Regions from separate parts of the Homo sapiens genome. Here region 2 is linked to region 1. The links come from fine-mapping of genetic effects on gene expression. A gene starts in region 1. The other region holds a variant in brackets. All regions are shown on one strand. Distances are between the middles of the regions.

Region 1 (15,574 bases):
ACTTCATCTGTATTTACAGCCGCTCCCCATTGCTGGCATTACCGCATGGGTTCTGCCTCCTGTCAGATCAGCAGTGGCATTAGATAGATTCTCATAGGAATGCGAGCCCTATCGTGAACTGCGCATGCAAGGGATCTAGGCTACCTGCTCCTTAGGAGAATCTAATGCCTGATATCTGTCCCTGTCTTCCATCACCCCCAGATGGGACCGTCTAGTTGCAGGAAAACAAGCTCAGGGCTCTTGCTGATTCTACATTATGGTGAGTTGTATAATTATTTCATTATATGTTACAATGCAATAATAATAGAAAGAAAGTGCACAATAAATGTAATGCACTTGAATCATATGAAAACCATCCCCCCATTCTGGTCTGTGGAAAAATGTTGGGGACATATACAACATGGATACCGTGGACAAAGGGATGATTCACTTCCTGGGCAAGATGGACCACCCTGGGATTTCATTATGCTACTCAGAATGGTACATAATTTGAAACTTAAGAATTTTAAAAATATTTTTATATTTTTATTCTTTCTTTTACCTTGCAGCTCCAGTTCAAAGGAATTAATGTATTATTGTTATTATTATTATTATTATTAAGACAGAGTTTCGCTCTTGTTGCCCAGGCTGGAGTGCAATGGCATGATCTCGGCTCACTGCAACCTCAGCTCCCTGGGTTCAAGCAATTCTCCTGCTTCAGCCTCTTGAGTATCTGGAATTACAGGCATGTGCCACCACGGCTGGCTAATTTTGTATTTTTAGTAGAGACGGGGTTCCTCCATGTTGGTTAGGCTGGTCTCGAACTGCCAACCTCAGGTGATCCACCTGCCTCAGCGTCCCAAAGTGCTGGGATTACAGGTGTGAACCACTGCGCCTGGCCTATTTCCTGGCACTTCTATGCCTTATAAGGAAAGACTACTAATTTACTGTGCATAATCTAAAGTTTTGTTTTCTGACTCCTTTTTATCTTTTCCTTCTATTCTATTAACCTATGGTGTTTTGTTTTCTGCTCTTGTCATGCTCTGCCTCAAGCAACCTCTTTGTTCTTCTTATTTGCTTCTTAGTCTGGGAAACCAGACAAGTAAATCTATTAAAATTATGTGTAAATTTATTATTACTTTTAAGGCTAGTCAAAGCAGTGGGAGTAGAAAAGGAACAAAGAAATCTCTAATTGGTTGCGCCACTGCACTCCAGCCTGGGTGACGGAGCAAGACTTGGTCTCAAAAAAAAAAAGAAGAAGAAATCTCTAATTGGTAGTGTTCAATTAGTTTCAATTAGTTGTAAACACCACTGCACTTGGACCAGCCAGAACTATGTGTAAACCTAGACAAAATAACTTATGAGTGAAGACCTCACATCTCTTTGATTGAAGAGTATGCATTTGATTATAGTCTCCGTTTTGCATTTTGGCTTATATTGAGCCTATTAAACCCACTTCCTAGTGCTAACTGCATCAGACAGTTGGAAAAGTAACCTTTATTTTTATTTTACTTATTTTTTTTTAATAGAGACAGGATCTTGCTCTGTTGCCCAGGCTGTAGTACAGTAGCGTGATCATAGCTCACTGCAGCCTTGAACTCCAGGGCTCAAGAGATCCTCCTGCTTCAGCTTCCCAAGTAGCTGGGGCTATAGGTGTTGGCTACCATGCCCAGCTAATGTTTTAAATTTTTTTGTAGAGATGGAGTCTCCCTATGTTGCCCAGGCTGGTCTCTAACTCCTCCCACAGTTTGGCCTCCCAAAGTATTGGGATTACAGGTGTGAGCCACTGCACCTAGCCAAAAAGTAACCTTTAAATAAGTGGAGTGTTATCTTTACTTTCTTAAGCTAAGAGTGCATTACACTTAAGAAACATTTTTATGTTAACTTTTCATGTATTCATACAAGTGACAGTAAAAGGAAAATTCTTTAAAATAAGGAAAGAGCAGTTCAAGATGCTTTTGTTTTGTTTTTTTTTTTTTTTGTTTTTGAGACAGAGTCTCGCTCTGTCGCCAGGCCGGAGTGCAGTGGCGTGATCTTGGCTCACTGCAACATCTGCCTCTTGGGTTCAGGTGATTCTGCTGCCTCAGCCTCCCAAGTAGCTGGGACTACAGACATGTGCCACCACGCCTGGCTGATTTTTGTATTTTTAGTAGAGACAGGGCTTCACCATGTTGTCCATGATGGTCTCGATCTCTTGACCTTGTGACCCGCCTGCCTTGGCCTCCTAAAGTCAAGATGCTTTTTTAAAGTGCATTCATGGCCGGGCGCGGTGGCTCACCCCGTAATCCCAGCACTTTGGGAGGCCGAGGCGGGCAGATCACGAGGTCAGGAGATTGAGACCATCCTGGATAACACGTTGAAACCCTGTCTCTACTAAAAATAAAAAAAATTAGCCAGGCGTGGTGGCAGGCGCCTGTAGTCCCAGCTACTCAGGAGGCTGAGGCAGGAGAATGGCGTGAACCTGGGAGGCAGAGCTTGCAGTGAGCCGAGATCGTGCCACTGCACTCCAACCTGGGTGACGGAGGGAGACTCCGTCTCAAAAAATAATAATAAAATAAAATAAAGTGCATTCATTCATTCATTAAATATTTACTGAGTGCCTGCCACATGCCAGGCATTGTATCAATAATAAGAATGTAAAAACGAAAACAAAAAAACAGCTCTTCATTATTTTTTCTTTCTTTCTTTTTTTTTTGGAACGGTCGAGGGGACAGCATCTCACTCTGTTGCCCAGGCTGTGCAGTGGTGCAATCACAGCTCACTGCTGCTTTGACCTCCTGGGCTCATGTGATCCTCCAGCCTCAGCCTCCTGAGTAGCTAGGACTACAGGTGTGTGCTGTCATAATTCTGGCTTTAAAGAATCCTCTTGCCTTGGCCTCCCAAAGTGCTGGGATTAGAGGTCTGAGCCACCACCACACCCAACCACCATTTTTTAAAGCTGTCACAACCTGGGAAAACTTCATAGTGCATTTTATTTTTTATTTTATTTATTTATTTTTTTTAGATGAAATCTTGCTCTGTTTCCCCGGCTGGAGTATAGTGGTGAAATCTTGGCTTACTGCAACCTCTGCCTTCCAGGTTCAAGTGATTCTCCTGCCTCAGCCTCCTGAGCAGCTGGGATTTCAGGCGGATGCCACTATGCCCAGCTAATTTTTATATTTTTAGTAGAGATGGGGTTTCACCATGTTGGCCAGGCTGGTCTCGAACTCCTGACCTCAAGTGATCCGCCTGCCTTGGCCTCCCAAAGTGCTGGGATTAAAGGCATGAGCCATGGCGTCTGGCCCTGATCGTGCATTTTATAGTTTTCTTTGGCTGGATCCTCCCTTCAAAATCTGTATTTGAGCATTTTTGTCTTCCAGAGAAGTACAGCAGTAAACTTAGTTTTCTATTGATAACACATTGGTATTGGGCCTCTGTGTATATTTCCATGTATTTTTTTCACCACCGCAAGTATAGTTATGTCCCAGCAGCCCTGGCAGCATTTACCTTAAGTGCAAGAGGGAAGTCCCCTGGCTGCCCATCTAGGTAAATATCTAGGACATTTGGACTCCCTGTGGGTCCTTTTGGTAAAACTAAGCCCAGAGACCTGATAATGCATTTCACAATTCACACCATTGTCTGATGCTCAACCTTTTATTTTTTCTTTCTTCTGTTAAAACTATTGAATTGCCAGGATTTTGGTTAGGGGTGAGTAGAGAAGTTTGGAATGTTTTTAATCCTGTGTTCCATGTTCTTGGTAATATTAGAAGAGCAGCAGAGCCATGAATCTAGTCATGCTCTTGGCTAACACAGTCTACCCTGACTTAAGTGCTCCTCACATGAAAAGAGATCCAGGGCTTTAGTTGACAGTAAATACAACCTGAGCCAGTGATGTGACCTGGCTGCCAAAACAAGTAAATGTGATATGAACTGGCATTAAAAGAAGCCTGGTGGCTGGGACAAGGAAAGGAATAGTCCCAGAGTACATTCTGCAATGTTAAGATCACACCTGGAGGATGGTATTTCCTCCCAGGCTGTAAGAGTGATGTTGACAAGTTGGAGTATGCCCAAGTTGGGCAACAGGATGATGAATGGCCTAGAAACTACATCTTTTGAGGAACGGTTGGAGGATGTGGGGTAGTTACCCTGAAAACTAGAAGGCATGTGGGTGTGGGATAACTATTTTCAAACGTTCGCAGGGTTATCATGTAGAAGAGTTGGACTCTTCTGTGTAATCTCAGCAAGCACAACTTAGACCAATGGGTGTGTATTACAAAGTAGCTGATTTTGTCTCTGTAAAGGGAAGAACTTTCTAGCCCTTATGAACACCCAGAAAATAGTAGCTCTGAAAGGTAGTTACTTAACTTTATTTATTTATTTATTTATTTATTTATTATTTTTGAGATGGAGTCTTGCTCTTGTCGCCCAGGCTAAAGTGCAGTGGTGCTATCTTGGCTCACTGCATCCTTCACCTCCCGGGTTTAAGTGATTCTCCCACTTTAGCCTCCCAAGTAGCTGGCATTACGGGAGCACACCAACACACCTGGCTAATTTTTTGTATTTTTAGTAGAGACAGGGTCTCACCACGTTGGCCAGGCTGGTTTCAAGCTCCTGACCTCAAGTGATCCACCTGCCTCAGCCTCCCAAAGTGCTGAGATTACAGGCGTGAGCCACCACGCCCGGCTATTTATTTATTTATTCATTGAGACGGAGTCTCCCTCTGTCGCACAGGCTGGAGTGCAGTGGTGTGATCTCAGCTCACTGTCACCTCTGCCTCCCCAGATCAGAGGATCCTCCCACCTCAGCCTCCCAAGTAGCTGGGATTACAGGTGTGCACCACCACACCTGGCTAATTTTTGTATTTTCACTAGAGACAGGATTTCACCATGATGGCCAGGCTGGTCTGGAACTCCTGACCTCAGGTGATCCACCGGCCTTGGCCTCCCAAAGTGCTGGGATCACAGGCTAGTGACTTAACTTTAATAGAGAGTGTTAGAAAAGAGGCTGGCTAACTGAATGTCAGAAGATCCATGAATAGGAAGTTTGGAGAGATGATCCTATCCAAGATCCTTTCAGAGTCAAAGGTTCTTTTGATGAACCATAAGAAGGTGTCAGTACCTTGTTCCTCAGCTCCCATTAACAACAGAAACTGTGTGAAAATAGACTGTAAGGCAGAATGTCAAAGTTACGAAGGTAGAGGGAAATAAAGCCATAGCTGCTTTGTTTACCCTAGTGGTTATTCTGTTTCTGTGTATAAAGATTTAAGTAATGCTTTTTTCTGTTTTTGTTTTTTTTCTCCCCAAACAAGTTTTTTACTTTCAAAATTCTCTAGAGCTTTGGTGTGCTTTCTTTCTTTGGAAACTTCTGGCTCTCCTAATATGTTGTTTTCAGGGTACTGTATTTTGACAAGATCATCCTTAACCCAATATTATAAAGCAACACTTCACAGAATCGCAGTTTGTGTCTATGCGTCGAAGAACCAGCCCTGTGGAACAACTTATGTTCTTTTTTGGTGCTGGTTTTTGACACAGGGTCTTGCTGTGTTGCCCAGGCTGGAGTAGAGTGGCACAGTGATGGCTCACTGCAGCCTTGACCTTCTCCTTAACCCAATATTATAAAGCAACACTTCACAGAATCGCAGTTTGTGTCTATGTGTCGAAGAACCAGCCCTGTGGAACAACTTATGTTCTTTTTTGGTGCTGGTTTTTGACACAGGGTCTTGCTGTGTTGCCCAGGCTGGAGTAGAGTAGCACAGTGATGGCTCATTGCAGCCTTGACCTTCTGGGTTCCAGTGATTCTCCTATCTCAGCCTCTCAAGTAGCTGGAATTATAGGTGTGTGCCACCATGCCCAGCTAATTTTTAATTTTTTTTTAAGAGACGGGGCCTCCCTATGTTGCCCAGGCTGGTCTCAAACTCCTGGACTCACGTGATTCTACCGCCTCAGCCTCCCAACGTGCTGGGATTACAGGTGTGACCCACTGTGCTTGGCCACAACTGGTGTTTTGAGATCATTAATAATTAATAATGAAGTAGCATCTGGTAAAATGTGTACATTAGGATAGCTTAGCTTTTCCCAACAGTCAGTGAGGTGAGTTAGTAATCATCACTCTCATTTACCAGAAACTGGGTTTTGGAGCAGCTTGCCTACCACGATCGTGGTAGATTCTAGCTGGCACTAGAATCCAGAACTTTTGACTTCCACGCCAGTGTTCTTTCTAATACAAAAGGCTACTGTTCTTTCCTAATACTGGGTTTAGAGCCTTACTTGATCGCAGAATACAGTTTTTCCTCTTTTAACCACAGCAGTTCTCTGGAGTAGGATGGCAGGCTACTTTGGCCAAAGACTTGGCCTCTAACTTAAGTGCTGTCCCTAAGTTCATTTTTGTCTAAAGGAAGTCTCCAGCAAACGTCACTACTGATGTCTGTGCATACTTGACCACCTCCTTGAAAACAGGGACGCTAACACTTGCTCCAAAAAAAAATTCTAAGAATGTTAAGAGGGCAGTATTTGTCAAATGGAATGGATTTCACTGGGCAGTGCAGCAAAATGCTTAAGTTCTGCCGTGTTTTTTGTTTTGCGTTGTTTTTTAGAGACACAGTCGCGCTCTGTTGCCCAGGCTGGAGTGCAATGGCTGTTCGCAGGCGCGATCATAGCGCGCTGCAGCCTGGAACTCCTGCTCAAGCGATCCTCCTTGAACTTAGCCGGCCTCAGCTTCCCAAGAACCTGGGACTACAGGCGTGACACCTCGCTGGTTTACTCATTTTTCTGTTGAGGTATTATTGTGTGTTTCCTACTTTTACTATGCTATTTATACTCAACATAGTAGGTGCTGAATAAATACTAGTTAGTATCCTGGCTGGTCCAATACTCAGTAAAAACTGATCTCAGAATACGAAGCTGCTTGAGACCAGGCCCTTGCCCCAGTGTTCAGAGATCCACAGGTTGCTGTGGAGGCCAATCTGCCCAACCTGGAGTTCCAGAAAGGTCTGGGGATGTGTGTTGAGTGAGTCACAGACAGCCAAACTAAGAAAGGAGGAGGTGGTAGGGTGGGGAGGCCTTGCTGGAGAAGGAACAGGTGAGTGAATGCACAGATCTCTGAATCAGCAAACTGAATGAGTGAACCGCAAGCCGATATCGGAGTTGTCATACTTGTTGGGCTAGTCATGTAACCTCCAGGACCTCCATTTCCTTATCTGTAAAAAGAAATAAATAGTCTACTTATTTGCGATTATGTGAAGATTCAATAAGGTAATATTTGTAAGTATTCGCACTTGTACTTGGCATATCAACTGGCACAAAGTAAGCGTTCAATGTTAGCCACCGTCACCATTATGCGTTCATATATTTTATTTTTATTTTTTTGAGACGGAATCTCGCTCTGTCGCCCAGGGTAGACAGAATACAGTGGCGCAATCTCAGCTAACTGTAACCTCCTGGGTTCAAGCGATTCTCCTGCCTCAGCCTCCTGAGTAGCTGGGATCACAGGCGCGCTCCACCACGCCTGGCTAATTTTTTCGTATTTTTAGTAGAGACGGGGTTTCACCATGTTGGTCAGGCTGGTCTCGAACTCCTGACCTGATGATCCGCCCGCATCGGCCTCCCAAAATGCTGTGATTACAGGTGTGAACCACCGCGCCCGGCCTACGCTTTCATAATTTAATAATACCTTATAATAATTATGAACTGTGTCATTCCACGAATAATTTATTCCCTGGTCGTTGACTGCGAACGAGGTTGACAAGGATTCATAAACAGCCATTTCAGTCCCAAAGAGCTTTTAGACAAGGAAGCCAGGACCGGCTTCACAATCCGAGACAAGCGGCAGCGTGACGTCCCCACGTCCGCTCCCAGGGTCACGTGACCCGCAGCCCCGCCCGGACTGAGTGGGTCCCCAGCGGCTGCGACAGCAGCGTCTGCGCCTGCGCGGAGGCAAGCGCGCTCTGCGGCGCGGTCCGCTGTGGAGGCGGCGCGAACGGTCAGGGGGCGGCCGATGGCTTTGAGGGGCCCTGCGGGCTTGGGGCCCGGCTCTCGAAGGCCGTTGGACGAAGCGGTGGCAGGGGCCGAGGGCCGCGAGGCGCCGGCCCTTGTGGCGGCGGGAGGCGCGCCAGAGGACGATGAAGAGGACGATGGCCGTGGCCGGGGCCTGCTGCGCTGGGACAGCTTCTCCGCCTGGCTGCACTGCGTGTGTGTGGTGGGCTTCGACCTGGAGCTGGGCCAGGCCGTGGAGGTGAGGCCCGGCCCCGCCCTTTCTCGGCGCTCCTCCCCTGCGCCGGGGCGGCTGCAGCAAAGCCAGCGGCCCGCGGGCTGACCGGCCAGGACCCTGTCCGCGGCGCATCCGGGCGTGGCCAGTCTCCCCTCCCGCGCTCTTTCGGGCTGCGGTCCTACGGCACTTCCCGTGGGAGGATCTTGGGCTGCGGCTAGGGGTGAAAAGTTCTCTCTAGGCCCCTCCTAAATACTTGTTGATGTTCATCCTGTTCTTTCTTTATTTCTTTTAAACGCAGAGTCACAGAATTAACTAAAAGGGTTAGTAGCACCCACCCGGAGAAGCCCGCAGGCAGGATGTTTGTTTGGTACTTTTTCAAGAACAATGCCCATAACAGATGATGAACTCTAGTAGCCGAACTTGCACAACCAAGTTTTAAGGCTCAGATTGTTTTAGTCATTTGCAGTAACTGTTTGAGCGTTTCCCTCAGCCTGAGTCGAAATGCTTATCTCAGCACGCATTTTCTCCCTTTCCTCCTTTTGTGCCTCATTTCTGTTTTTTTTTTTTTTTTTTTTTGAGACGGAGTTTTTGCTCTTGTTGCTCAGGCTGGAGTGCAATGGCGCGATCTTGGCTCACCGCAACCTCTGCCTCCCGGATTCAGGCAATTCTCCTGCCTCAGCCTCCCGAGTAGCTGGGGTTACAGGCATGCGACCATGCCCGGCTAATTTTGTATTTTTAATAGAGACGGGGTTTCTCCATTTTGGTAAGGCTGGTCTCGAACTCCCGACTCAGGTGGTCTGCCCGCCTAGGCCTTCCAAAGTGGTGGGATTACATGCGTGAGCCACCGTGCCCGGCCTCATTTCTGTTATTTTTTTTTATGTTGCCTCTGGAACAGTTGGTGTGAAACTACTGTCAAGATGAATATAGGGAACATCATTTGCTTGTCAATCAGTCAACTTTTCCATTCTTATGTATGGCCCCTTACCGAAAGGCTTTAGAAACATCTATTCTTGACGTTGTTGAAGGTCTTTTTAGCATAAGGAATTGCTTGCTTTCATGTGTCCAAGGAAATTGTTATCAGAAGGGCGTTTGTTTAGACGTTTTGGTTTTGGTTTTTTTTTTTTTTTTTTTTTTTTGGTATTGGTGACAGATTTCGATTTCATTAATACTGTAGTGGCCTGGTTGACTAAGAAAATTGGCTAGGGGTAGTTTTCTTAATGCGAAGCTACTGCTTTCGTATTCGGCCTGCCTTCTGGATGTTTTATTATAACACAGTTCAGCGACATTAAGTTTCCACTAAGAACCAGGCATTATGTTAGTTGTGGAGCATACAAATAGGATGTGCTCTAATCTGTATTTGTAGATTGAGGCAATAATTTAGAGGAGAACCAAGAATTAATCATAGTAGCTGATAAGGCCAAATGCAGTGCCTGGCACCTAGTGGCATTCTATAAATACTTTTGATAGAATAGGTGAATATGTGAGCAATTCTTTATCTTATTAAAGTAAGAAAAACAGTTCCCAAAGATTTTGAGTAAGAGATTTATAAGCCATTTATTATTCACCTTGCCATGTTAACCTGAAGTTATATGTACAGCAAGATACAATTTAACCAGAAAGCATAAGAATGGGTTGTTGTAGTTGATTGTGTTTTTAAATAGCTAAAGGAGATTCTTTTGGATTCTCATTATTTGGGACATTCTTTATAACGTGAATATGTTTTTTGACCAAATAAACAGAAAATATATTTGAGATGCTGCAAAAATGTGAATTATTAAAGGACTTATTTTGAATTTCATTTTCCATAGTGTATGCCACTGTATAGAGTTTTTTCTAGGTCAGGAGTTCTTAACCTTTTGCTTCCTGGATCTTTTAAAAATATGAACATTGTGAATTTTCCACTAGGAAAAGGCTGAGTAAGATGAAATCATGTATGTGGTTCCATATATGTGGTTTCCAGCTATTTAAGACATAAACCTAGTAGGGCTTCAGAAAATGGCTAGAGTTCAGAACCAGGGAAACCTCTTGGTTTTGCTCTTTTTTTGTGTGCAGATCTTGTTTATATTTCATGTTCCCTGCAAACTGCCTTCTTCCCCTTCTCTGATTTTTTTTTTTTTTTTTAAAGACAGAGTCTAACTTTGTCAGCCAGGCTGGAGTGCAGTGGTGTAATTTCGGCTCACTGCAACCTCCACCTCCCAGGTTCAAGTGATTCTCCTGCCTCAGCCTGCCAAGTAGCTGGGACTACAGGTGCATGTCACCATGCCCAGCTAATTTTTGTTTTTTGAGAGAGAGAGTCTTGCTCTGTTGCCCAGGCTGGAGTGCAGTGGGGCAATCTCGTCTCCCTGCAAGCTCCGCCTCCCTGCAAGCTCCGCCTCCCAGGTTCACGCCATTCTCCTGCCTCAGCCTCCCAAGTTGCTGGGACTACAGGCACCCGCACCACGCCCGGCTAATTTTTTGTATTTTTAATAGAGACGGGGTTTCACCGTGTTAGCCAGGATGGTCTCGATCTCCTGACAGTGTGATCTGCCCACCTCAGCCTCCCAAAGTGCTGGGATTACAGGCATGAGCCACCGCGCCTGGCCTGCCCAGCTAATTTTGTTTTTTTTGTTTTTTTGTTTTTTTTAGTAGAGACAGGGTTTCACCATGTTGGCCAGGCTGGTCTTGAACTCCTGACCTCAAGTGATACACCTGCCTCAGCCTCCCAAAGTGCTGGGATTACAGGCGTGAGCCACCGCACCTGACTTTTTTTTTTTTTTTTCCTTAGAGACATGGTCTGCCTCAGATTGGAGTGCAGTGGCATGATCATAACTCACTACAACCTCGAACTCCTAAACTCGAGGGATCCTCCTGAGTATCTATGAATACAGACATGCACCACTACACCCGGCTATTTTTAATTTTTTTTGTGGGGACAGGGTCTTGCTATGTTGCCCAGGCTGGTCTCAAACTTGTAGCCTCAAACTGTCCTGCTGCCTCTGTCTTCCAAAGTGCTGGGATTATAGGTGTTGAGCCACCATGCCCAGCCCTTCTCTGATCTTTAAGGTGAGAAGCTAACGTTTTTAGCCACTTCAGTGAAAAAGAGTGAATCTTTAACTCACTTCCAAAGCCAGAGGAAGATAATCTGGCCTGGTTTGGGGCAGGTTCCTACTCTGATACAATTGGCTAAAGCCCTGAGTAGAAGGGGGAGTGGTTCACCTTGCATAAAATGTCTTTTAAGGCCCTGTCCTAAGTGAAGGGGGTTAAGGAGGTCTTTGAGCTAGGAAGAAACTGAACAAGGTGTTGACTGCAGGGGGTGTGCTGAGCTTCTTTTCCCCTGAAGTGGCTCTGGAGGCATTACCACAGAATCAAAGTGTCCTCTGGAACAAGGTTTGAAACCTCCTGGGTTTGATATACTGTACCTCACTTTTAGCTTTGAAATTACCAATTATTTAGTAAAGCCTTAATTATCCGAATACAGAATTACCTTATTTATTCAAGTTTTTTTTTTTTTTCTGAGTGAATAATAACATACTCATTGCTGAAAACTTGGCAAGTAAAGAAATCATAAACACTAGGCCGGGCATGGCGGCTCATGCCTGTAATTCCAGCACTTTGGGAGGCCGAGGCGGGCAGATCACGAGGTCAAGAGATCGAGACCACCCTGGCCAACACGGTGAAACCCCGTCTCTACTAAAAATACAAAAATCAGCTGGGCGCAGTGGCATACACCTGTAGTCCCAGCTACTCGGGAGGGTGAGGCAGGAGAATCGCTTGAACCTGGGAGGTGGAGGTTGCAGTAAGATCGGGCCACTGCACTCCAGCCTGGCGACACAGCAAGACTTTGTCTCAAAAAAAAAGAAAAATTATAAACACTAGAAAATATCACTCTTAATTCTACTAAGAGGCAACTGCTATTAATATTCGGCATTTTTGTTAATACTTTTTTTCTTTATATAATTTTGTATCTGTCAAGGATTAACTTGATTGTTAGGAACAGAAACCTCAAATAAACTTAAGTAAAGGGACAGTGATTGTAAGGATTCCAGGCAGTCTTTTGGAATCCAAGTGTGTGGGAAGCAAGGATGAACCTGTGGGATTTGGAAAGCCCCAGGCCTTTGTCTCTGGAGCTGTGTGTTTTTTTTTGTCTTTGGTCTTTGCATGTCTGTTCTTTTCTCCATGCTGAAGCTGGTTTGTGCTGCAGTGGCCTCAGTTTCTGCTCCCCCGTTACTCTGCTTGACTTTGGGTTTCCATGGTACTAATTTTAGCCAAACTCTTTTTCTGGAATGAGGCTGAAGCTTAATATTGGAGTATCTGATTGGCTCAGCATGGGACAGGTGTCCCATTTTGTTCACTTGTGGTTAGGAGACAAGGTTTCGCTAGCAGTAGCAGTCACTTAGGCTCACCCCTGCAATAGGAGGGACACTTCCAAAGCATAGTCTGGGCAGCAGTCTCCTAAACATGTCTACTGTGAGTCTGCTTTTATTCATAAATATTCTCATAAACAGTTTGTAAGATGATTAGACTCTTAATAAGCCGAGTGTGGTGGCTCATGCCTGTAATCCAAGCACTTTGGGAGGCTGAGGCGCGTGGATCACTTGAGGTCAGGAGTTCGAGACCGCCGTAGCCAACATGGTAAAACCCCATCTCTAATAAAAAAATACAAAAATAGGCAGCTTGGTGGCACATTCCTGTAATCCCAGCTACTCGGGAGGCTGAGGCAGGAGAATCGCTTGAACCCGGGAGGCAGAGGTTGCAGTGAACTGAGATCATACCACTGTAGTCCTGCCTGGGCAACAGAGTAAGACTTTGTCTCAAAAAAAAAACAAACCCAAAAAACAAAAAACTCTTCATAAATATAATTTTACAAAGCAGATGTTCTTTTCTTTTTTTTTTTTTTGAGGTGGTCTTACTCTGTCACCCAGGCTGGAGTGCAGTGATGCAATCATGGCTTACTGAAGCCTTGAACTCTCGGCTCAGGTGATCCTTCTGTCTCAGCTTCCCTGGTAGCTGATACTGCAGGCATATGCTTATGCACCAGGCTAATTTTTAAATTTTTTGTAGAGATGGGGTCTTGCTTTGTTGTCCAGGCTGGTCTCAAATTCCTGGCTTCAAGGGATCCTCGTGCCTCCACCTCCTAAAGTGCTAGGATTACAGACATGAGCGACCACACCTGGCTGTCATCCTATCCTTTGAAACTTTGAAGCCAGGTATTGACTTTTCTCTAGCTATGAAAGTCTTAGAGGGCATAGTCTTCCAACAGAAGGCTATTTCATCTACAATGAAAATCCGTTATTTAGTGTAGCCACCTTCATCTTTTCTCTTAGATTTTCTGGATAACTTGCTGCAGCTCTCTATCAGTCCTTGCTGCTTCACCTTGCACTTTTATGTTATGGAGACAGCTTCTTTCCTTAAACCTCATGAACCAACTCCTGCTAGCTTCCAACTTTTCTTCTGCGGATTCATCACCTCTCTCAGCCGTAACAGAATTGAAAAGAGTTGCGCTCTTGCTCTGAATTAGGCTTTGGCTTAGGGAATGTTCTAGCTGGTTTGCTCTTCTATCCAGACCACTCAGACTTTCTCCACATTAGCAGTAAGGCTGTTTCACTTTCTTATCATTGATGTGTTCACTGGAGTAGCATTTTTAATTTCCTTCAAGAACTTTTCCTTTGGCTGGGTGTGGTGTCTCAGGCCTGTATTCTCAGCGCTTTGGGAGGCTGAGGCAGGAGGATTCCTTGAGCCCAGGAGTTCAAGACCAGACTGGGCAACGTGGTGAGACCCTGTTGCATAGAAAAAAAGAAAGAAAAAAAGAACTTTTCCTTTGCATTCACAAGTTGGCTGTTTGGTCCAAGAGGCCTAGCTTTTGGCCTGTCTCAGCTTTTGACATGCTTTCCTCATTAAACTTAAATCATTTCTAGCTTTTGATTTAAAGTGAGAGATGTGTGACTCTTCCTTTTACTTGAACACTTAGAGGCCATTATAGAGTTATTCATTGCCCCAGTTGCAAATATTGTTGTGTCTTACGGAATAGGGAGGCCTGAGGAGAGGGAGAGAGATGGGGTAATGGCTCGTCAGTGGAGCTGTCAGAACACATGTATTTATTGATTAAATTTGCCATCTTATATGGGCATGGTTTGTGGTGCCCCCAAACAATTACAATAGTAACATCAAAGATAACTTATCACAGACCACTGTAACAGATACAATAGTAACAAAAAAGTTTGAAATATTGTGAGAATTACCAAAGTGTAACACAGAGACACAAAGTGAACACATTGTTGGAAAAATGATGCTGATAGACTTGCTTAATGTAGGCTTGCCACAAACCTGTAATTTGTAGAAACTGGTAACTGCAAAGCACAATAAAATGATGCACAATAAAACAAGGTATGCCTATATTAATAAAAGGAGAAGGAAGAATGGTATTGGAAGGCAACAAGCATTTACTGCCTTACCTGAGAGCAGTTATAATCTTATGTAATCAAAGATTTATTTTGAAAGATTTCTAAGCTTGGGTTTTATGATATAAACTTTAGTAACTTTGAGCTGTTTGAGAGCCAAGGGTATATGTGCCTGAAAATTCTACACCATTATGTAACTTTGAAATAAAGGATTATGTTCTGTTTTACCTGGGATATGGAAATATCTGTTAATGCTTATTGAAAATGAGGCTAAACATTTATATCTTGGTAAATTTAGGCTATTTTTGTATTATTGGGATTCTATTTATTTTGTTCTTCTTATCATAAGAATCATCTGGGGCATTTGTTACATATGAGGATTCTGGGGCTCACCCATCTGCTTAATCAGAATCAGTTCCAGAGGATCATTATGTGTAGGCATGTTTGGAGTATGTTTTTTAATTTTCTCTTTATATAAACTTTTCTGTTTTTCTTGTAAACCAGCTGTTGTCAAAATGTGGTCTGAGGACTTCTGGGCATCTCTGAGACCGTTTCAGGGGATTTATAGGATGTTTTCAAACTATGTATGGCTTTTCTTCATGTTCTTCAACCAGAACAACATATTGCAATAGAATGAACATAGAATGATTCTGCCAAGAGCAAACATTAAAGAAAAACAAATTTTTTTTTAAAAAAAAAGAATGAATGCTGAAGCAGATATGAGAATCTAGTTATTTCTGTTAAATCAGACATTAAAGATATTTGCAAACATGTAAACAATGCCATCTTAGTAAGGTTTTTGTTTTGTTTAGGAATACAGGTTGTGTGTTCCTAATCTAAACATTCAAAATCTGAGACGCTCCAAAACCTGAAACTTTCTGAGTACTGACATGATGCTTTTTAAAGGAAATGCTCATTGGAGCATTTTGGATTTCAGGTTTTTGGATTTGGGATGTCCAACTGAGTAAGTATAATTCAAATATTCTAGAATCTGAAAAGATCTGAGATCCAAAACACTTCTGATCCCACCAAGC
Region 2 (15,574 bases), 120 kb after region 1:
AAAATTAAAAAAAAATTACCTGGGCATGGTGGCATACTCCTGTAGTCCCAGCTACTTGAGAGGCTGAGGTGGGAGGATCACCTGAGCACAGGAGTTGGAGGCTGAAGTGAGCTACAGTTGCGCCTCTGTACTCCAGCCTGGGGGACAAAAGGAGACCTTGCCTCTTTTTTGAAAAAAAGAAGAAACAAAAAAATGGAAGGTTTGGTTCTAAAAAGGAGTAGCTTTTGAAATATGGAAAGGAGGAGACATATTTGCTAAATAAATGCCCATGATAAGCCAAGAACAATGATCTTTTATATCTCTGTGATTGCATTTAATCTTTAACAAGCTTATGAAGTTAGTATTTTTATTTTATTTAGACGAGGCATAGTCAAGGATTAGATAATATATATAACAAGTAGTATAAGATTTGAATTTGAGTCTGTCTTCCCACCACACTATATTGGCTCCCAAAGCATCAAACATTATTTTTTGTTTTTGAGATGGGGTCTCACTCTGTTACCCAGGCTAGAGTGCAGTGGCATGATCATGGCTCACTGTAGCTTCAGTCAACCTCCTGGGCTCATGTGATCCTCCCTTCTCAGCTTCCTAAGTAGCTAGGACTATAGACATGTGCCACCATGCCCTACTAAAATTTTAATTTTTTTCGTAGAGACAGGGTCTTACTCTGCCCAGGGTGATCTTGAACTCCTGACTTCATGTGATCCTCCCACCCCAGCCTCCCAAAGTGGTGGGATTAGAGGTGCCATGCCAGCCAAAAGTTTTCTCAAAGGATAGGATATTTAAAGTGATGGTTTTCCAGGTGGTATAGATGCAGTGTAAAATAAAATTTAAAAATTAAGTTATGGTTTCCAACAGAGATAAAGGAAATGGACTTACAATTTGCTAAAACAAAGGAAATTGTCATTTAATGGATGTAAAATAAGTGTTAGATGCTCCTGGAGAGCCCAGTACTGTGGTAATCCTGAGAGGTAAACAGAAAATGATGTAGGATGGGGCTGGGCGCGGTGGCTCACACCTGTAATCCCAGCACTTTGGGAGGCCAAAGCAGGCAGATCACCTGAGGTCAGGAGTTCAAGACTAACCTGGCCAACATAGTAAAATCTCATCTCTACTAAAAATACAAAAATTAGCCAGGTGTAATGGTGGGCGCCTGTAATCTCAGCTACTCAGGAGGCTGAGGCAGGAGAATTATTTGAAACTGGGAGGAGGGGTTTGCAGTGAGCTGAGATGGCACCACTGCACTCCAGCCTGGGTGAAAAAAAAGATATAGTATAGTCCTTTGCCCTTAGTGGATGTAATCTAGTTCCTTTTTTTTTTTTTTTTTTTTGAGATGTAGTTTGCTCTTGTCGCCCAGGCTGGAGTGCAATGGCGCCATCTCGGCTCACTGCAGCCTCCGCCTGCCAAGTAGCTGGGATTACAGGTGTGCCACCATGCCCGGCTAATTTTTGTATTTTTAGTAGAGATGGGGTTTCACCAGGCTGATCTCGAACTCCTGATCTCAGGTGATCCACCTGCCTCGGCCTCCCAGAATGCTGGGATTACAGGCGAAAGCCACCTCAACCAGCCTCGTTACTTACATAAATCAGTAGTGCAAGACAATCTGTTATAAGTGACATGATCAAAATTGATACTTTAGGAGTCAAGGTTTATCTTTTTTTCTTTTTTATTATTTTTATTTTTGCCCCCCCCCTTTTCTAGCTGAAAATTCTATACTTTCCCATTTGAAAGTTCTTAGAAAAACAGTTCAACTAGTTGCTTCCTAATTCCTTCCATTTATTTTGTAGTATAGAATTCTAATAATGGGCCAGGTGCCATGGCTCATGCCTGTAATCCCAACACTTTGGGAGGCCAAGATGGGTGGATCACTTGAGTCCAGGAGTTCGAGACCACATGGGCAACGTGGTGAAACCCCATCTCTACAAAAAATAGAAAAATTAGCTAGGTGTGGTGGCACGCACCTGTAGTCCCAGCTACTTGGGAGGCTGAGGCGGGAGGATCATTTGAGCCCAGGGGGTCAAGGCTGCAGTGAGCCAAGATTGTGCTACTGTGCTCCTAGGCAACAGAGTTGAGACCCTGTCTGAGAAAAGAAGCTAATATTTGTATCTCTAAGAATTGATAACTACCTTCCTTTTTTTAAAGAATGTCTTACTCGATCAGGTAAATCTTGAATTTTTCTTTCTTTTTTTTTTTAAGAGATAGGGTTTTGACATATTGTCCTGGCTGGTCTCAAACTGCTGGGCTCCAGTGATCCTCCTGCCTTGGCTTCCCATAGTGCTGGGATTACAGGAGTGAGCCACTGCGCCCAGTCTTGGATTTTTCTTGCTATCATTTTCTTAAGATGTCTTCCTGATCTAGAGTTGGCAGGCAGCATTCTGAAGCAAGTTAATTTTTTCCTTCCATGATGAAGCAGATAAAAACTGTAGTGTACACACTCGCGCTATCCCACCCCCCTTTTATTACTCTGTACATGCCTTTGAGTCAGTAAGCTAATTCAGTTAGTAAATTCATGGGGTTTTTTTGTTTGTTTTTTGAGATAGGGTCTCGCTCTGCCACCCAGGCTGCAGTGCAGTGGTGCGATTTCAGCTCCCTGCAACCTCCGTCTCGGGCTCGTGATTCCTCCCACCTCATCTCCCAAGTAGCTGGGACTAAAGGCATGCACCACCACACCTGGCTAATTTTTGTATTTTTTTGTAGAGATGACCTTTCGCCATGTTGCCCAGGCTGGTCTCAAACTCCTGAGTTCAAGCAATTTCAGGCCTGATCGTTTGCCTCAGCCTCCCAAAGTGCTGGGATTACAGGATGAGCCACCATGCCTGGCCAAATTCACGATTCTTTAGGATCCTTGATTTGTTATTTTTCTTTTTGTTCCTACTTTGTGGCTATTTTGGTACCTGCACTTAAATGTGAGAGTGCAGAGGGAAGGGGAAAAATAGATACAATTTATTCTTAGGGTAGTTGAGAAAAGTAATTAATTGGTGAAGAATAAAAATTTTTTAGATTTGAAATAGCACTAATAAATTAAACTTACAAATAGTTCTCAAATCAGCTTTTAGCATTACAGCCTTAAGTTCTTACTTTTAAAGAGACATTTTCTTCCTAATGTCTAACCATTGGTACCATTTTGCTGCCTACACTGTTTCATATAGAGAGTGTCGTTTAACTGTTAAAATTTACTGAAACAATTTTTCCCCAGGGTCTTATTTTTGTGGTAGATAGCAACGATCGTGAAAGAATTCAGGAAGTAGCAGATGAGCTGCAGAAAATGGTAAGAAATATACTTTAAATTCATCATTTTCAAGGTGTGCTTTTCTGGATTAAACTGGTGGTGGTTTAGTACATTTTGACTATGATTAGATTACACAAATGGATTGGGGGGGCTAGAAATAAACTTAAGAAACTATATTATCCACAGGTTCTTAATAATGTACTTCAAAATCTCTTATAGAGCGTTTTAAAAAACACATGGAAGAGTAGCTACTTCAGTAAGTTGGGAGGAAGGCAGAGCAGTGTTGTTTTTTTTTTTTTTAGAATGCCTCATGGGTAATCTTGATGCCTATCTCTGGCTGAGGATATCTGATTTAGCTCAGTCCCTTACTTTACAGATATCAAATCTATAGTGCTGTAGTGGTTTTGACCCTAGGAATCTTGGTTCAGATGTTTTGTTCCCAAGGTCATCGGTTCCATTTTCTCTATGCTGTGCCAATAATTACTTCAGAAATGTTTTTTAATAGTAACCATTTAAGGATAAGGAATTCCTTCTGAAAGTAGAGACAAATGTTTGGTTCACAGTGGCATTTTGCAGCCTTCCCATAGATTGGATTAATGTTTTCATGTGTTCATGTTGTTAAATGTACTAAATGGAGGAAGACTGCTGAGAATCCTTGTCATGATTTTAAACTTGTAGCCATAAAATATTTACTGAAATGAAATCTTAATTCTTGTTCATTCCTCCTAAGATTAGAGGGCAGTTTGTAAAACCATTGTGCCAGTATATGTGTAACTAAGTCATTGTTGGATTTTTGCCTGAGTCAAATGTCACCAGCTTTCCCTCTTCAAAAAAAAAAAAAAAAAAAAAAGCTTGGTTGAGACATACTTCACACACTATAAATGTCATCCTTTTTAAATGTGCATATCAATGGCTTTTAGCATACATAGTTGTACAACCATCATCACAATCTAATACTAGAAAATTTTCATCACCCTCAAAGAAATCTTGGACCATTAGCAGTCATTCCCATTTCCTTCCTCTCGTACACCACACTCCCAGCCTCTGACAGCCACTAATTTGTCTTTATACAGTCACCTATTCTGGACATTCATATAAATGAAAACATACAATGTGTTCTTTTGTGACTGATTTTTTCACTTAGCATAATTTTTCAGGGTTCGTCTATATTGCATCATGCATCAGTACAACTTCTGTTCTTGGTACTTTTTTTTTGTATATTTCATGATACTGCCAACACCCAGATAATTGTGTTATTGTCCCACTGTTGTTGGAAAGGATAGAAGTCCGAAAAGAATCATCATCTATCTAAGTACTTCTGCTACTAAGTACCATAAGAACCTGCCATAAACATTTTATTCCCACATGTATTTCTTGCCCTTATCAGTCCTGACAATGGGTAATCATGAAGGCTGAATGATGAGTGATTTGCTTTAATTTAATGGGGTGTAGGATGATTGACTTGGAAAACAGTTCTGTCTTATTTGAAGGCATATGATTGTTTGCTCTGGATTTAAAAACTGAAGGATATGAGACTTCAGTTGTAAGAGTGAACTTTGTGTCGAGAAATTAGGTTAATGTTTAATAATGTATTTAATGCTGAGTAAAGTATATATAGGAAGACATTTTCAAAAATTGGATTCCGGTTGGTAGTTGTTAATGCCTTACCTTTTATTTCCAGCTTCTGGTAGATGAATTGAGAGATGCAGTGCTGCTACTTTTTGCAAACAAACAGGATTTGCCAAATGCTATGGCCATCAGTGAAATGACAGATAAACTAGGGCTTCAGTCTCTTCGTAACAGAACAGTAAGTATTTGGAGGTTGATATTAACCTCTTGACTATTAAGACTTACTAGGATAGTTGTGTAAGCTAATATTCAGTTTAAACATTTATTATCTCCTTTGGACAAATAATGAGCACATCATTTATTTAAAAATATGGTAATAAACTTTAAATACCTTATTTGATTTTTGTAAAGAAACGGAAAACTACTGTAGAATAGGTCTAAAGATTATTGATAGTTTCTTTTTTCTTTTTTTTTTTTTTTGAAGGGAGAGGTGGAAGGAATGGAAAGAAGATTATTGATAGTCTTAATTTTAATTTTGTATCTTTTAAGTAACCCTACAGCAAATATTTTGAAATCTGGCTTTCTTATTAAGGGTCCAGTAATGTTTGTTTGCTTGTTTTAAAAGTGGAGATGGGGGGCTGGGTGCGGTGGCTCATGCCTGTAATCCCAACACTTTGGGAGGCCTAGGTGAGCAGATCATCTGAGGTCGGGAGTTTGAGACCAGCCGGACCAACCAGGGAGAAACCCTGTCTCTACTAAAAATACAAAATTAGCCAGGTGTGGTTGCGCATGCCTGTAATCCCAGCTACTCAGGAAGGCTGAGGCAGGAGAATCACTTGAACCCAGGAGGTGGAGGTTGCGGTGAGTCGCGATCGCGCCACTGCACTCCAGCCTGGGCAACAAGAGCGAAACTCGGTCTCAAAAAAAAAGTGGAGATGGGGGGTCTCGCTTTGTTGCTAGGCTGGTCTTGAACTCCTGGACTCAAGCAATCCTCTCACTATCTCAGCCTACCAAAGCGCTGGGATTCCAGCCATGGTGCCCAGCCTTGTTTGCTTGTTAACATAACAGTTTATGGAGGAGACCAGGTACCACGGCTCACACCCGTAATCCCAATACTTTGGGAACCCAAGGCAGGAGGATTGCTTGAGGCCAGGAGTTCCAAACCAGCCCGGGCAACAAAGTGAAACCCTATCTCTACAAAAATAAAAATTAGCTGGGTGTGGTGGCATGTGCCTTTAGTCCCAGCTACTTGGGAGGCTGAGGTGGGAGGACTGTTTGAACCCAGAAGTTGGAGGCTGCAGAGAGCTGTGATTGTGCCCATTGCACCCCAGCCTGGGTGACAGAGCAAGACTGTTTCTTTAAAAAAAAAAAAAAAAATTTGTACTTCTCTAAAATTGCTTATCATTGATCAGTGATTCAGTGATGGAGATAAATTATCAGAAACTTAGTGTCATAGGCTTTTTACAGTAGTTTTGCATTAACCTGTAAATAAGGGAAATACTGTGGCTGTGGTAAAAAATGAAACAAACAACAAAGAACCTATTGCAGGCCGGGTGCAGTGGCTCACGCCTGTAATCCCAGCACTTTAGGAGGCTGAGGTGGGTGGATCATGAGGTCAGGAATTCAAGACCAACATGGCCAAGATGATGAAACCCCATCTCTACTAAAAACTACAAAAAAATTAGGTGCAGTGGCAGGCATCTGCAAGCCCAGCTACTCTGGAGGCTGAGGCAGGAGAATCACTTGAACCCAGGCAGCAGAGGTTGCAGTGAGCCGAGATCACGCCACTGCACTCCAGCCTGGGTGACAGAGCGAGACTCCGTCTCAAAACAAACAAACAAACAAAAAAAAACAACCTATTGCCTGTTTGAGATATCTCAGGCTGATTTGAAGAACATAAACTGGGCCGGGTGTGGTGGCTCACACCTGTAATCCCAGCACTTTGGGAGGCGAAGGTGGGCGGATCACTTGAGACCAGGAGTTCGAGACCAGCCTGGGCAACATGGTAAAACTCTGTCTCTACTAAAATTACAAAAATTAGCTGGTCGTGGTGGTGCATGTGTGTAACCCCAGCTACTTGGGAGGCTGAAGGCACGAGAATCTCTTGAGCCTGTGAGGCGGAGGTTGTAGTGAGCCGAGATCACGCCACTGCACTCCAGTCTGGGCAAGAGTGAGTACTCTGCCTCAAAACAATCAGTCGATCAATCAATAAATAAGCAAGCAACACTAACTGTAAATGATACAAGTTTTCCATGCTGTGAAGGTATGAATTTGAGCCTTTCCCCAGCCTCCTAGGTTACTGAGATTTGGTATTCAAATAATTGGCAACATGGTATACCTGCAGTGGCCTTGCAACATTAAACTGGTCAAAAAAATTAATAAAAGTAAACTATGCCTTAAATGTAAATTGTTTTCTAGGTTTTTTTTGATACTTTCACACAGTTACTAGAGATAAGATTCGTTGCCATTTAAAAGCAAGAACGTTTTGGAATGCATGAGACTAAAGATGGTGAAATTGTCTGAAAAGCTTGCCCTTAAAATATCAACAAACCCTACTCTTTCTTTCTTTCTTTTTTTTTTTTTTGAGATGGAGTCTTGCTCTGTCACCCAGGCTGGAGTGCTGTGGCACGATCTCGGCTCACTGCAAGCTCTGCCTTCTGGGTTCATGCCATTCTCCTGCCTCAGCCTCCTGAGTAGCTGGGACTACAGGCGCCCACCACCACGCCCGGCTAATTTTTTGTATTTTTAGTAGAGACAGGGTTTCACTGCGTTAGCCAGGAAGGTCTCGATCTCCTGACCTCATGATCCATCCGCCTCAGCCTCCCAAAGTGCTGGGATTACAGGTGTGAGCCACCACGCCCGGCCTAACAAACCCTACTCTTTCAAAAATTTGCCTCTTCTACTTTGAGTTTAGTTTTATGGGAAACGAGAGTTATAAAAACCAGATGGGTAGTTTATTAGTTACTAATTTCCCCATGATTTCTTTTTTCAGATTAAGTGGTAGAAAGTTTACTAAAAGGGAACCAAAAACCAGCACTGAAAAGAAAGCTGAATGAGGGGGGAAAATCTTGTCTAAATATAATGAATAGGTAGAAGTAGCTTGATTGATTGAGACGGAGTCTCACTCTGTCGCCCAGGCTGGAGTGCAGTGGCACAGCCTCGGCTCACTGCAACCTCCAGAATAGGTAGAAGTGGCTTTATTTTTAAAAAATAATTTAATCTAAAAAAGTAGAGACAAAGTCTCACCATGTTACCCAGGCTGGTCTCGAACTACTAAGCTCAAGTGATCCTCCCATCTCCGCCTCCCAAAGTGCTGGGATTTATAGGTGTGAGCCACCACGCCCAGCCAGAAGTAGCTTTAAATATGGGAGAGTTTTGTGAGATGCAAGAGGTGTGAAAAGACTCTTAAGTTTGATTAAGAAAGTTTAAACACTGGTGTTATATATTAACTTTGTTAATCAAGTATTTTCTTGTCTTCTCTTTACAGTGGTATGTTCAAGCCACTTGTGCAACACAAGGAACTGGTCTGTATGAAGGACTTGACTGGCTGTCAAATGAGCTTTCAAAACGTTAAATGAAATTGGATATCTAACCAAGGACATGTTTGATAAAATTGGTCTAGGCTTGTTACAACAAAATTAGTTTGTATCTTGGTTATTAAACAGTATCTGGGACTGGTTTGGGCAGAATATTAAACTTATTTTGTTGCCAATTATTGTTTACCGAGTATAATGTTGCTATTTAGCAATGTGCTTGGTTTTAAAGAAATTCTCCTTGGGAAAAAAGTATCCTCTTTTAATTTTACTTCCCATAAGCGTAAATGCCTGGACATAGCTCTTGTGCAACCTTTAAATAAATTGTTTTGAGTGTTTTTTGAGCCCCAGACAAATAATGTTTTAAAGTTATCCCCTTGCTACTTTACTGATACCTTTATCATTCCTGAGACAGTTTGCTAATTTAAAAATGTAGCATTCCATTTGTATTTATTTCTCTCCCTTGCCAAAAAGATTTTCTAATACTGCTTGTACCAGCCAGAGAAAGATCCAAAACACTACTCAGCTCTCTTGCACTGAGGAAATTTTTCCCCCTACATTGACTCCTGGCCTACATCAGCCAAACTTAACCTTGGTGGGGTTTGGATTTGATAGCCAATTAGTTCTGTGCTGGTTGCAAAGAATTGATATTTAGATGGTTTTTAATACTCAGCAGATTGTCTTCCTTTATATTGTGTCTTTTTTATGTTGCATGTTGCTTTTGTTATCAGCCTGATTTTTTGCTCAGTATATGATAGTTCTGCTGATGTTTTGTTTATTGGGCAGACATATCTTCATTAAGAGTTTTTGGAAAACTCATCAAATTCGATGAATACATTTTCTTCATAACCCATTTGGAATTATTCCTAATAAAATGATAAAATACGTAATTGTGTGTGTTCTTTTTGAGTTTTGAAGGTATTTGAAATGTATTTTCTTATGTAGCCAACTTTGCTTGCATATTTTATGTACTGTGAACAGTAACACAGATCCCACTGGTAGGTTACTAATTGTATAAAGTGGAGATCTAGATTGTTTTCATGTGTATAACAGCATGGGGAACACTATTAAAAACATAGTTTTCTAAAGTCAGATCAAGGGTAAAAGGAGGGCCTGGCATGGTGGCTCACGCCTGTAATCCTAGCACTTTAGGAGGTTGAGGCAGGAGGGTCACTTGAGAATAGGAGTTTGAGATCAGCTTTGGCAATGTAGTAAGACCCTGTTTCCCCTGTCTCTACTTAAAAAACTAAAAACAAAACAACAACAACAAAAAAATCAGGTGGGGGGTGGGGAGGGGCGGCATGTGGAGTGGGGTAGGGAGAGTAAAAGGCTGTAATAAAATGAACTGCCCAAAAAGCATGTATGTATGTGTTTTTTAGTTAAGGTTAATTAAACAAAAAAATTCAGGTGCTACTTGTATGGCCAATATAGAGACTTAGTGATGCTACTTTCCTACAAAAAAGTTTCACAACCACTTTTCTTTTTAACAGGGCAAATTTTAGAACTTTAACAGAAAGCTGCATATAATTCATACAAAGGTATACCTCATAAACTACATCTATTAAGTTTTAAGGGCTCAACTTGATAACTGAGTAACTTAGTTTCTGTCTATATTCTCATGTTGCATTCTTAATGGCTTGTAAAGATTCAGCTAAATTTATGGATTGAAAATTCCAAAATCAAATGCATACTTTTAAAAAAATGTATATTTTTGAATTGTCAAATAAATAACAATGGCCAGGCGTGGTGGCTCACACCTGTAATCCTAGCACTTTGGGAGGCCAAGGTGGGCAGATTGCCTGAGCTCAGGAGTTCAAGACCAGCCGCAACATGGTGAAACCCCATCTCTACTAAAAATACAAAAAAAAAAAAAAAAGGGTCTGGTGTGCTGGTGCATGCTGTGGTCCCAGCTACTTGAGAGGCTGAGGCAAGAGACTCGCTTGAACCTGGGAGGCAGAGGTTGCAGTGAGCCAACATAGCGCCACTGCACACGGTCTGCAAGACTCTGTCTCCAAAAAAAAAAAAAAAAAAAACACTGGATTAACCAAAAGGAAATTAGAATTGGTTGATGATTAGGTAGGGCAAAGTGTATGTTTAGTTTGTGTTACTTGTTAGAAATGCAATTTCCCTAGCCAACTGGATGAATTCTCCTTTCTTCCTTCCAAAGAAGACAGGTGTCATTTCCTATAGGATAAAACTGAACTATAGTATAATTGTTGTGTGTGTAGTCTTATGGGGCATCAACTAGGAAATATAAAACATCAGTGAATAAGTTCAGCGTTAGGGCTAGGTATTTAACCTAGTTATGCAAAGGTGTTTACATGGACTGTAAAGGGACTAGAGAATCTATGTAATCTTACTCGTGATGTAAAGCAGCTCTTAGTACCATTGGAAATTACCTTTTTTTTTTTTTTTTTTTTTTT[G/TG]AGATGGTTTTACTCTGTCACCCAGGCTGGAGTCCAGTGGCAGGATCTTGGCTCACCGAAACCTTTACTTCCTGGGCTCAAGTGATCCTCCCATCTCAGCCCCACAAGTAGCTGGTACTACAGGCATGAGCCACCATGCCCAGGTAATTTTTATAGTTTTTAAAGAAAGTATTAGGCTGGGTGGGGTGGCTCACATCTGTAATCCTGGCACTTTGGGAGGCCGAGGCAGGTGGATCACCTGAGGTTGGGAGTTCAAGACCAGACTGACTAACAAACATGGAGAAACCCCATCTCTACTAAAAATACAAAACTAGCCATGCATGGTGGTGCATGCCTGTAATCCCAGCTACTCGAGAGGCTGAAGTGGGAGAATTGCTTGAACCTGGGAGGTGGAGGTTGTGGTGAGCCAAGACCGCACCATTGCACTCCAGCCTGGGCAATGAGTGAAACTCCGTCTCAAAATAATAATAATAATAAAGTATTAGCAACTTGACACATTTACCCCTAAAAATTATTTTTTCTTCAGTCTTTGTATTTTTTTTTAAAGTTCCTTTTTTTCTTTTTCCAAACAGAAGTGGTTTAAATGTTTTGGGAGAAAGTATTGAGAGATAACCCCTAGCCTTTCCCTGTTTTATGCAAACATAAAATCACTGTCACTGTCCTTATTTATTGAAGTATTATGAAATAGTTGATGCTATCAAGATTCAATGCTTACTGTTCATTCAAATGTTAAACCTACTGTTGGTCAAGCAATAAGAGTTCTCTGTGACCGCCCCTATTGTACAGAACAGTTGATTATATCCCTAGATTAAAAAGTATTCTGTCAACTAATTGTCAAATAATGTCAGTAGAGAAACTGAAGAGAAATTGTGATTCCCTTACAGGATCACTTGGCAGCATCAGAGTTGAGGATAGTACGATTATCTGCTCTCTGGTTCCCCTGTCCAATAAGCATTTTTTTTTTTTTTTTTGTCCATAACATTTCCCATTGTCTTTTGTCTCACTTTAACATAAGCTGCTTTTCTGTGATGTAATATCTTGATATTTTGTTAAGAGTTTCAATTTCCATGAAATTTTCCACTTACCTTATATACCCTCCATTGAAAATAAAAAAGGCATGGTAGCTCATGCCTGTAATCCCAGCACTTTGGGAGGCTGAGGCGGGAGGATCCTTTGAGGCCAGGAGTTTGAGACCAACCTGGTAAATATAGTGAGACCTCCATCTCTATTAAAAAAAAAAAAAAAAGAAGTGTATCTTTTGTGGAGAGTATTGGTGTCTCATTCAGACACTTCAGTTTACTTGAGTATACAGAATTATCTTTCAGGCAGTAGTAATTACTTTCAGGTCACTTACTATGATCAAACTTTTTTTTTTGAGACAGGGTCTCGCTCTGTCGCCCAGGCTGGAGTGCAGTGGCATGATCACAGCTCACTGCAGCCTCAACCTCCCAAGCTCAAGCGATCCTCCCACCTCAGCCTCCCACATAGCTGGGACTACAGGCCCACGCCATCAGTCTTGGCTAATTTTTGTAGAGATGGGGTTTCGCCATGTTGCTTAGGCTGGCCTTCAACTCCAGAGTTCAAGTGATCCACCCACCTAGGCCTCCCAAAGTGCTGGGATTACAGGTATGAGCCACTCTGCCTTGCCCAAATTTAATTAAATGTGAAATACCTGGTTCTTTGTCATGGAGGTTTGAAAGTGACTCCTAACTTGTCATTGAAAACAAGTGCTTTACTTTTTTTTTTTTTTTTTTTTTTTTTGAGATGGAGTCTCACTCTTATCACCCAGGCTGGAGTGCAGTGGTGTGATCTTGGCTCACTGCAACCTCCACCTCCCGGGTTCAAGCGATTCTCCTGCCTCAGCCTCCCGAGTAGCTGGGATTACAGGCACACACCACCATGTCCGGCTAATTTTTGGTATTTTTAGTAGAGATGGGGTTTCACCATGTTGGCCAGGCTAGTCTTGAATTCCTGACCTCAGGTGGGATTACAGGTGTGAGCCACCGCATCCGGCCAAGTGCTTTTCAATGGGGAGAAACTGGAGAGAACAAGTGCTTGTACCTTCTGGTAGCTTGTACTTCTGGATGTTTCAATAATGTAAATATTGGTTACCAGCTTTGGTAGAATTAGTATGAAAACTAGATTGAATAATAACAGTCTGTAAGTTCATTACCTGAGGATCTAATAGGGAAAATATATTTCTACTAGTATATACATGTGACATTGCATTCATGGGCCACTACTGGAAGGTTACTTGGCTGCTGTTATTTCTTACTATGCTACTTTTAGAGGACTATCCCTTTATCTTAAATGGTTAAATTCTAATAAGATTGTGAGAAATGAATAGCAGAAGTGCTTATCTAGACACAGGCAAAGAATAATTAAGGTAGCTGTATTATTGGATGCCTGCCAGTATGGCTTCATGTGTTAGAGGCAGCGGAGTTAGGTTCCTTCCTGACCTTGTCAGTCATTTTTCTATATTGTTCAAATGATACATTTTCAATTTTTTTTTTTTTTTGACACGGAGTCGTGCTCTGTCACCCAGGCTAGAGTGCAGTGGCATGATCTCAGCTCACTGCAACCTCTGCCTCCTGGGTTCAAGCGATTCTCCTGCCTCAGTCTCCGGATTAGCTGGGACTACAGGCGTGTACCACCACGGCCAGCTAATTTTTTTGTATTTTTAGTAGAGACGGAGGTTCACCATGTTGGCCAGGCTGGTTTCAAACTCCTGACCTCAAGTGATCCAACCGCCTTGGCCTCCCAAAGTGCTAGGATTACAGGCATGAGCCACTGTGCCCGACCACATTGTCAATTTTATTGGGCATGTAAGTACTTGGTGTTGGACAGCTTATCCTTGCTTTCTGGGAACTCACCAGATTTTGGTTACAGTGTTTCTTTTTTTTAGGCTGGGAACTAAAGGGATGTATGAAGCACAGACTAAGAAAGATTTGCCTCCCGGATGGTCCTGAAAAGGCAAGGGATGATGGATTATTATATTATTTATTTTTTAAGGAGGGGTGGCTAAACAACAAATAACATTTTTAAATGGGCAAAGTATTTCAAAAGACATTTCTCCAGAGATATATAGATGGCCAACGAGCACATGAAAAGATGCTTAACATCGTTAACCATCATGGAAATGCAAATCAAAACCACAATAAGATGCCACTTGACACTAGGATGCCTATAATCAAAAAGATAATAAAGTGTTAATGAGGATGGAGGGAAACTGGAACCCTCATATTGCTTGGTGGGAATGCAAAATAGTGCAACTGCTTTCCGTAAGTCTGGCAGTTCCTCAAAAGGTTATCACAGCACCCAACAATTCCATTCCCTGTATGTGCCCAAGAGAAACAAAAACACATATTCACTCAAAAACTTATCACAAATGTTTATGGCAGCATTATTCATAGAAGCCAGGAAGTGGAAGCAATTCAAATGTCTGTCAACTAATGAATGGACAAATGTGGTACGTCCATAAGATGGAACATTCATCATAAAAACAAACTCCTGATACATCCTACAACAGTAAGAACCTTAAAAACATCCTAAGTAAAAGAAGCCAGTCACAAAAGACTACATAAATTATGATTCAATTTATATGAAATGTCCAGAATAGGCAAATCCACAGAGACAGGTTAAGTTGTTGCCAGGAGCTAGGGAGAATGGGGAGTGACTGCCAAGTGAGTATGCAGCTTCTTTTGGGGGCCAGTCCTTGTCAACTGAGTTGATATGCAGTGACAAAAAAAGCTCTTAAGGAGAGTGGGATTATGTGACGTGAGCCACTGTGCTGGCCTGATTCCATTATTTATAATAGAATTATTAAAAACTCTACAGCTGGGATAGAAATACCCTTTCTTGGTTTAAGATACCCAAAACACTATAGCCCAGCTTTTCTGAGGAAGGCCACTGTTTATTTCTAACTGATTTTATCTTTGGATGTACCATTTCTCCAAACTATTCCACAGGGGATATAAGAATTATATGCAATAAATCCTTTTTTTAAAATTTTATTTTATTTTATTTTTGAGACAGAGTCCCGCTTTGTTGCCAGGCTGGAGTGCAATGGCGTGATCTCGGCTCACTGCAACCTCTGCCTCCCGGGTTCAAGTGATTCTCCTGCCTCAGCCTCCCCAAGCAGCTGAGACTACAGGCGCGCGCCACCATGCCCAGCTAATTTTTGTATTTTTAGTAGAGACAGGGTTTCACCATGTTGGCCAGGATGGTCTCGATCTGACCTCATGATCCACCGGCCTCAGCCTCCCAGAGTGCTGGGATTACAGGCGTGAGCCACCGCGCCCAGCGCAATAAATCCTTTTAAAAGTGTGTATATCACATTTTAGAATAACTGAGAGAGTACAATTGGAATGTTCGTAACACAAATGAATGCTTGATGTGATGAATACTCAATTTACTCTATCAAAAGAAATATGTCCCACATAAATATATACACCTACTATGTACCCATAAAATGTTTTTAAAAGTTGATAAATATGTTTTTTTCTGGAGAAAAAATTTGTTTTTAATTTTTTTAAAAAAAGGGCTATGTGTGCTGGCTCACACCTATAATCCCAGTACTTTGGGAGGCTGAAGCGGGAGAGTCATTTGAGCCCAGGAGTTTAAGACCAGTCTGGGCAACATAGAGAGACCCCCATCTCTACAAACAATTTAAAAAATTAGCCAGGCATGGTGGCATGCACCTATAGTCCCAGCTACTCAGGAGGCTGAGGTGGGAGGATCGCTTAAGCCCTGGAGTTTGATGCTGCAGTGAGCTATGATCATGCCACTGCGCTCCAGCCTGGGCAACAGCAACACCCTGT

Evidence for each region. PIP is the estimated chance that this variant, and not a neighbour inherited with it, causes the effect.
Region 2: its variant is fine-mapped to the expression of DENND6A in whole blood (INTERVAL, PIP 0.98).

What each region holds. Positions count from the first base shown.
Region 1 is chr3:57,685,395-57,700,968 of GRCh38, reverse strand. It overlaps DENND6A (DENN domain containing 6A), which reads left to right and starts at 7,892. Exons shown (of 20, transcript NM_152678.3): 1 at 7,892-8,187. The coding sequence starts at 7,951. DENND6A-DT (DENND6A divergent transcript) reads right to left here and starts at 7,764. Exons shown (of 2, transcript NR_135550.1): 1 at 7,627-7,764; 2 at 4,318-7,153. RefSeq lists silencers at 7,893-7,992, 8,103-8,342 and an enhancer at 8,064-8,564.
Region 2 is chr3:57,565,010-57,580,583 of GRCh38, reverse strand. PDE12 (phosphodiesterase 12) reads right to left here. Exons shown (of 3, transcript NM_177966.7): 3 at 13,736-15,574. It overlaps ARF4 (ARF GTPase 4), which reads left to right. Exons shown (of 6, transcript NM_001660.4): 4 at 3,197-3,268; 5 at 4,911-5,036; 6 at 8,286-9,221. The coding sequence ends at 8,372. Among named protein-coding and RNA genes, the nearest start is that of PDE12, 17 kb to the right of the region's middle. The variant G/TG (reference allele first, on the strand shown) is at 10,755.